Linked DNA regions of Homo sapiens: region 2 is linked to region 1. The links come from fine-mapping of genetic effects on gene expression. Tissue or cell type: pancreas. Region 1 holds a variant in brackets; the other region holds the start of a gene. All regions are shown on one strand. Distances are from middle to middle. Region 1 overlaps SRPK1 (SRSF protein kinase 1). Region 2 holds the start of LHFPL5 (LHFPL tetraspan subfamily member 5).

What was found. PIP is the estimated chance that this variant, and not a neighbour inherited with it, causes the effect. A credible set is the group of variants that fine-mapping cannot tell apart.
Region 2: LHFPL5 starts here. The variant in region 1 is the best candidate, but not a certain one, in a credible set for the expression of LHFPL5 in pancreas (GTEx, PIP 0.75).

The regions. Positions count from the first base shown.
Region 1 is chr6:35,841,164-35,845,689 of GRCh38, forward strand. SRPK1 (SRSF protein kinase 1) reads right to left here. Exons shown (of 16, transcript NM_003137.5): 14 at 1,372-1,441. Among named protein-coding and RNA genes, the nearest start is that of LHFPL5, 38 kb to the left of the region's middle. RefSeq lists a silencer at 1,936-2,091. The variant G/A (reference allele first, on the strand shown) is at 1,931.
Region 2 is chr6:35,803,157-35,807,156 of GRCh38, forward strand. It overlaps LHFPL5 (LHFPL tetraspan subfamily member 5), which reads left to right and starts at 2,196. Exons shown (of 4, transcript NM_182548.4): 1 at 2,196-2,926. The coding sequence starts at 2,515. RefSeq lists a silencer at 2,065-2,234.

The DNA of each region.
Region 1 (4,526 bases):
GCAGAGAGTAGGTAAAATCAAGTAGTAATTATAGTATCCTCTAACATGGGGCTTATATATACAAAATATGTCCAAACTCTACCCACTTAAATAGGCATTCATGGGAATTACATAGCATAGCATTTTCCAAATGGTATTCATTAGGAATATTAGCAGGTCCTACTAACATTACCTATTAATATCCCAGAAGACCACATTTTGAGAAACAAAGAGCACTCTTGGTTCCATACAGCATGAAATATGCATTCCCAAAGATTCAAGGAAAGCACAAAAAGTAAAGAACATGCTCTACATTGGGAGGGTAGATGCTGTAGTGATATCTCAAAATAATCCTCATTAATCCTACAACTAAAACATAAGCTGCCTCAACTGTATAAAACATTTTCTTGGCTGAGCGTGATGGCTCACGCCTGTAATCCCAGCACTTTGGGAGGCTGAAGTGGGTGGACCACGAGGTCAAGAGACAGAGACCATCCTGGCCAACATGGTGAAACCCCGTCTCTACTAAAAATACAAAAATTAGCTGGGCATGGTGGCACAAGCCCGTAGTCCCAGCTACTCGAGAGGCCGAGGCAGGAGAATCGCTTGAACGAGGGAAGTGGAGGTTGTAGTGAGCCGAGATCGCACCACCGCACTCCAGCCTGGCGACAGAGTGAGACTCCGTCTCAAAAAAAAAAAAAAAAAAAAAAAAAATCACAAAACCATTTTGTTTGTTCATTCAAATTATTAACTCATTTAGTTATCTGGATGCCATCATAATAGAAAAATCAGACACACACAGTTGCTGCTTCCACAGTCTCTCAGACAAAGTAACTGGCAGCCTAGGCTTTTCCCACTGGCTACCACAACATGTAAATCCATTCTACTTTGTTTTAAAATGGAATTCCAAAAAAGAAAAAATTAGTTTTATATTCAGAAAAGGGAAAAAAGAATGCTAAATTTTGGCAGAATTTATAGAAATAGGATATAGTCTCTGCATTCAAGTAGTGTGTGTATATTAAAATAACTGACCTCTAAATAAATTTGGAGGCATAATTGAGCAACAGGTTGATGAGCAGGTAAAAAACTGGGTAAAGAATGAACCACTGATATATACAGAAAGGAAGATAACTAGATGTTGAAGAAAAAATTGTCCAGCACACAGAAGTTTTAGGTGAACTGTGGCCTTTTGACTCTGACAGAGCTCTTTAGTATCTTTCAGAAAATATCTAAAAACCTAATATAAAATGTCTTTTATATTTCTAACTTTTCTGGGATTTACATGTTTTGCACACTAACAAGACTAAGGCTCTTCGGTACTAACAAATGATGTTAGCTTAATGTGGAAAGTGTAAATACCACGCACACACATCCATGGTTAAGGGGACTCACCTTCATCTCGAGTGTACTCTTCCCCTGAATGAGGTTCAAACAAATAGTCACCTGTGGCCAGTTCAAAGGCCTAAAAAAAAAAGAGGACAGTATATGAAAGCACAAAAGAAAAGAAGGCCTTTGGAAAGCTGATTGCTATTTGGCTCAATATGAAGTAACTCTTGTTCCCTTGGGAAAACTTATAGATCATTTAAAAAAAAAAAAAAACAAAAACTTAAGATTATTCCTAAAGCATTCCTTCCACATCCCTATCTTAATAAAATGGAGAAAACAGCAAAGACTCAGTAAATACTAACATGTGGGTTATTTCATGCCCAAACCTCCCCACCCTAAACCCTAGCAATTCAGCCCTCCTGAGTTTCCCTTTTTTGGCCGGAAAGGGGCATACCTGGATATTAAGGTGATTCTAAGTTATTATTCATGAGAAGAACAGGTCTTTTTTTTTTTTTTTTGAGACGGAGTCTCACTCTGTTGCTTAGGCTGGAGTGCAGTGGCACGGTCTCGGCTCACTGCAAGCTCCGCCTCCTGGGTTCACACCATTCTCCTGCCTCAGCCTCCC[G/A]AGTAGCTGGGACTACAGGTGCCCACCACCACGCCCAGCTAATTTTTTGTATTTTTAGTAGAGATGGGGTTTCACTGCGTTAGCCAGGATGTTCTCAATCTCCTGACCTCGTGATCTGCCAACCTTGGCCTCCCAAAGTGCTGGGATTACAGGTGTGAGCCACCACGCCCAGCCCAGGTCTTTCTTACATTATAATCACACATGGCTAGAAATTGAGATTCTGTACCAAACAAAAAAAATCAAAAAAAAAAAAAAATTCAGACTTCTACTTATGACTCTTTAGTGTTTGACAAGTACATCATTAACTTTTGCATAGGAAGTACTCCCTAGATTGTCCCAGATGGGAAGTTCCTGATTCCTAGGTCCTTTGTTTTTGAGATGGAATCTTGCTCTGCCGGCCAGACTGGAGTGCACTGGCATGATCTCAGCTCACTGCAACTTCTGCCTCCTGGGTTCAAGTGATTCTCCTGCCTCAGCCTCCGGAGTAGCTGGGACTACAGGTGCATGCCACCACGCCCAGCTAATTTTTGTATTTTTAGTAGAGATGGGGTTTTACCATGTTGGCCAGGATGGTCTCAATCTCTTGACCTCATGATCCACCCGCCTCTGCCTCCCAAAGTGCTGGGATTACAGGCGTGAGCCACCATGCCTGGCCAATTCGTAGGTCTTTAGAAAATCAGAAGATTAAGTGTAAAGGGAGTCAGGAGCCTAGCCTATGTGACTGGCAAGTCAGCACTCCCTAATTAGGAAAAGAAAAGCCTGTCTCCTTTAATAGAAAAACCTCTTACAGTGCTCGAGAGTGTCTTAGGAAATGATATCCTTGGGAATAAGTGCCATGCAGAATGAAAAGCAGGGCTACATAAATCCTCACTGATTACAAATGGAGTTTTAAAAATTAGTACACAACAGCAGTTTTTTTTTTTTTTTTTTGGATGGAGTCTCGCTCTGTCGCCCAGGCTGGAGTGCAGTGGCACAATCTCGGCTCACTGCAAGCTCCGCCTCCCAGGTTCATGTCATTCTCCTGCCTCAGCCTCCCCAGTAGGTGGGACTACAGGTGCCCGCCACCAAGCCCGGCTAATTTTTTGTATTTTTAGTAGGACAGGGTTTCACCATGTTAGCCAGGATGGTCTCGATCTCCTGACCTCGTGATCCGCCTGCCTCGGCCTCCCAAAGTGCTGGGATCACAGGTGTGAGCCACCACGCCTGGCCAACAGCAGTTTTAAAAAATGACCTTATTGATAGGGAAGCACAGTTATAAAATAAGCGCTAGTCATAGGTCAATTTTGATTAAATCAATGGTACTAAGCAGTCCAAACAACCTCAAGAACTGTAGAGTCCAGGACTTAGTTGGGGCATATTCTCAATTTAGACCCAAGTTTAGGTCCTGGTGGCTCACCAGTGTCAGTTTCTGCAGTTTCATGACAGAACAGCCTTTCTCAAAACTGTACTACCGTCCAGAGGGAGACCACAAAACCAGAAGTTTCAGGATAGGTTTAGGAATCAAATACTATCTCTAAATGTCAGCAGTGCTATGGCTTCTTGCTTGGCATTGCTTATTTTACATTTCAGTTGTTTATTAAGAAACTGAACCACAGTGATAGAGCAGATACTTGTTCTACCCTGAGTTGTTCCGAGGTTTATAGTCCCAAAGCAACAGAGAAACAAATCATGATTCTTGTTCACCAAAACTTGTCAATCATTCCTGATACCAGTACTTTAAAAAAAAATCTCATGGTCTCATATATAGAGTTCAGTAAAAATACTGAAATTAAAGTTAAAAAAAACAAAAAACAAAAAACACAGAGCCAGCCGCGGCAGTGCTATACGCCTGTGGTCCCAGCTATTCAGGAGGCTAGAAAATGAAATACTCTTCAGTGCTAAAAAGAAATGAGCTATTAAGCCGTGAAGATATGGAGGAACCTTAAATGCATATTACTAAGTGAAAGAACCTAATCTAAAAAGGCTACATACTGTATGATTCCAACTATTTGACATTATGGAGACAATAAAAATATCAGTGGTTGCCAGCGAGTGGGGGACGGGAGGGATGAATAGGCAGAGCACAGAGGAGTTTTAGAGCAGTGAAACGATATTGTATATAATAATGATAGATACATTTGTCAAAACTTCTAAAAGAGTGAAATGAAATGTAAACTACTGACTTTGGTTAATAATGATGTGCCAATGTAGGTTCATTGTTTGTAACAAATGTATCACTCTGGAGCAGCAGATCGACAGTTGGGGAGGCTCTGTGTGTGGGGAGCATATAAAACTTATTTGTACTTTTTGTTCAATTTTTCTGTGAACCTAAAACTGCTCTAAAAAATAAAGTCTATTAAGAAACAAACCCAAATAAAACCAGTGTACCATCCTTTGTTAACCTTCTCTAGACTATTGCCTTTGAGAAGAATGGCTTAGAAGATAGCATGAAATGCATGGAAAAGTTAAAACAATGACAATTTAAACAGACTAATTACATTCAGATCCAGAAGTAAATTGCAAACTCCAGGTAGCAGAAAGGAATACTGACACAGCTTGAGGGGCAATCTAGCATTTCATAAGCAATATGGTTGTGTGTGGTCAGAATGCCAAGGAG
Region 2 (4,000 bases), 38 kb before region 1:
ACTCAGGAGGCTGAGGCAGGAGAATCAGTTGAACCAGGAAGGTGGAGGTTGCCGTGAGCCAAGTTCGCGCCACTGCACTCCAGTCTGGGCAACAAGAGCAAAACTCTGTCTCAAAGAACAAAAAACAAAACAAAACAAAAAACTAGCTGGGCATGGCAGTGCATGCCTGTAATCCCAGCTACTTGGGAGGCTGAGACAGGAGGATCGCTTGAACCAGGGAGGCGGAGGTTGCTGTGAGCCAAGATCATGCCATTGCACTCCAGCTTGGGCAACAAGAGTGAAACTCTGTCTCAAGAAAAGTAAAATAAAAATAAAATAAAATAAAATAAAATAAAATTGTACATACATCATCCAATTGTGTAAAGGAGTATGTTCAGAAGGGGGAAACTGCAGAGATTAACAATGGTAATAATAATAATCACCAACATTTTTGAGTACTTTCTCTTTTTTTGTTAAAGCCCAGACTGGAGTGCAGTGGTGTGATCATGGTTCACTGCAGCCTCGACCTCCTGGGCTCCAGTGATTCTCCCACCTCAACCTCCCAAGTAGCTGCGACTACAGGCAAGCACCACCATGCCTGGCTATGCCTGGCTAAGTTGTGTATTTTTTGTAGAGACGGGAGTCTTGCTATGTTGCCCAGGCTAGTCTAGAATTCCTGAGCTCAAGTGATCGGACTGCCTGGCCTCCCAAAGTGCTGGGATTAGAGACCACTAATGTACCTTTGAGCACTTTAAAAAAAAAATTATTATTATTATTTTTTGAAATGGAGTTTTGCTCTTGTTGCCCAGGCTGGAGTGCAATGGTGCGATCTCAGCTCACTGCCACCTCTGCTTCCCGGGGTTCAAGCAATTCTCCTGTCTCAGCCTCCTGAGTAGCTGGGAATACAGGCACCCGCCACTACGCCCGGCGTAAGTGCATTTCCTGCATTTAATAGATGGCGAAACTGAGGCTCCGGAAGGAAGGTTAAGTCCATGGATGGTTACTTAGTAAGTAGCTCATTCAAATCCAGGCCTGTTGAACCCCAAAGTCCATGTTTTTAAGATTGTCTTGTCTTTCCTTAGCTCCGGACGTTGGTGTTATTATTATTATTATTTTTTTTTTTTTGAGACGGAGTCTTGCTCTGTCACCCAGGCTGGAGTGCAGTGGCGCGATCTCGGCTCACTGCAAGCTCCGCCTCCCGAGTTCACACCATTCTTCTGCCTCAGCCTCCCCAGCAGCTGGGACAACAGGCGCGTGCTGCCACGCCCGGCTAATTTTTTTGTATTTTTAGTAGAGACGGGGTTTCACTGTGTTAGCCAGGATGGTCTCGATCTCCTGACCTCATGATCCGCCTGCCTTGGCCTTCCAAAGTGCTGGGATTACAGGCGTAAGCCCCACGCCCAGTGGAATTTTCCTAGTTCTTTACACTAGCCATGTATTTACCTATAAAATCAGGAGAAATATGTATATATATAATATATTAAAACATATATATATTTAAATGGGGAAATATGTAACAAACAAATAGAAACAAGGGGAGAAAGGCATTGTATTTGACAAAACACATATGTTCAGGTCTGAGAAGGCTCATAAAGAATGTTGTCTGCTATACTTTGTAGTTGCTTCTGTTATCACACAATCAGTCTGCATATACAGGCGTTTTATATATATATTTATATAGACTACATATATACGTATATTATATATGTAAATATTTCACTGTCTTTGAGGACGGGGGCCCTGTCTTTTTTATCTGTGGTTTTGCTTAGATGTCCTCCAACATAATCTTAACACATAGTATGCTTTTAGAAATCGTTGACTGAATGCTAAGGACGAAAAACCGGTGACCAGAAGGCAACCAGGAAAGGCTTTGCTGACCTCCGGAGTGGTGGAGTTGGAGGTTCTGGGAAGGCGACTAGGGAGCCAGGCAGGGGCGGGGTGGGATGGGATGTGGACAGCGCTTTTGCGGGGGGAAAGCGTTTTTGCTGCTGGAATTGAGCAGTAGGAATGTGTCAGTCACATCCCCACCTTCCCAATTCTTGTCATCTCGGTTCAGGAAGGTGAACGGTGTTCCGATTCCCCGCGGCGGGGGCCTGTAGTGGGAGCTCTGCCCCTTCCCCGCCTCTGCTGCAGGCCCCGCCCCTCGCCCGGAACCCCGGGGCGCTGGCCGCGGTGCTGAAACGGCGCCCTCCGCGGACGGAGGAGGGGGCGGGGCTCTCGGGAGCCGTGAGCCGGGAAGAGGGAGACGGGCAGGGCGGCGCCAGCAGGCCCTGGTGGGCTTGGGAGGAGGCAGGAGACTGGAGACAGCCTCGGCTAGAGCGGACACAGGCACCTGGCAAGCTTTCCTTGACCAAATCAAGGTTGTCCTTGTCCTATTAAGCCTCTTCCCCTTGCCTTGAAGGGACCTCACCTGGTGCCCTGACCTCAGCCTCCTCCCCAAACCCCGCTGGGGAGTGACCTGCTTCTAGGCCTCCATCCACAAAGCTACGGACTTGCAGCCCACGGGACCCCAGCCCAGGGCCTGCTGCCCTCACCATGGTGAAATTGCTGCCGGCCCAGGAGGCAGCCAAGATCTACCATACCAACTATGTGCGGAACTCGCGAGCCGTGGGCGTGATGTGGGGTACCCTCACCATCTGCTTCTCCGTACTGGTCATGGCCCTCTTCATCCAGCCCTACTGGATCGGCGACAGCGTCAACACACCGCAGGCAGGCTACTTCGGCCTTTTCTCCTACTGCGTGGGTAACGTGCTGTCCTCCGAGCTCATCTGCAAGGGCGGCCCCCTAGACTTCTCCTCCATCCCCTCTAGAGCCTTCAAGACTGCCATGTTCTTTGTGGCCTTGGGCATGTTCCTCATCATTGGCTCCATCATCTGCTTCAGCCTGTTCTTCATCTGCAACACGGCCACAGTCTATAAGATCTGTGCATGGATGCAGCTGGCTGCGGGTAAGCAGAGATGGTGGGAGGGCAGGCAGGGGCCCACCCCGGGGCCACAGCTGCAGCTGCACCATCCCAGCCTCTGCCAGGGCTCTGGGCCTTAAATTTAGCTGTTCTCCTATAGCCCAGTCCTACTCAGTGCTCTGCAGAAGATTCTGAGGAGTTGAGAATCTTAAAATGGCAGAGGCAGAAAAGACCTTAGAGACCAAGCTGTCCAACCCTCTCATCCTACAGATGAGGTTCTGAGCCCAGAACCTCATCTGAGCCCAGAACCTCATCTGTAAGGGGAAGTGACTTGCCCAGGAGCACACAGTTGCCAGTCCTGATTCCCAGGCCATCACATCAGTTTTTGCAGCTGTGAGAGAGAGAAAGAAGGAAGCTTCCATTGTTGGCCATGTGGGAATAGGACTCAACCCTAGCACAAAGTAGTGACACCAGTCAAGCACATTCTAGATGCCTTCATCTCCCACCTCTGGGCTTTTGTTCTTTTTAAGAGTGCCCAGAACTCTGTCCTCATTCTCTCTCTCCCACTCCAAACTGCTCTCAGATTCTAAGGTCTCTTGCTGATTTTGGAGTGTTACTATTATGCAGGGTATGACCTTGCCTATAGAAACTTTCATCTAAATTCCCCTCTTTCATTGTGGAGTGAAAGTCTTTTTTCCTTGATCATGGGATTTTATACTTAAGGCAGCAAATGGAGTGATATTTTGTGAGGTAGAGGAAGCTATTTAGGGTCCTTTTGTTGTTGTTGTTGTTTGTTTGTTTTTTGAGACAGAGTCTCACTCTTTGGCTCAGGCTGGAGTGCAGTGGCATGATCTCAGCTGACTGCAGCCTCAACCTCCTTGGACTTAGGTGATCCTCTCACATCAGCCTCCCAAGTAGCTGGGACTCCAGGTGCGCACCACCATGTCTAGCTAATTTTTTTTGTATTTTTTGTAGAGACGGGGTTTTGTCATGTTGCCCAGGCAGGTCTTGAACTGCTGGGCTCAAGTGATTTGCCTGCCTCAGTCTCCCAAAGTGTTGGGATTTCAGATGTGATCCACAGCACCTGGCCTAGGGTCCTTTAAAACAATGTGGGGGCTG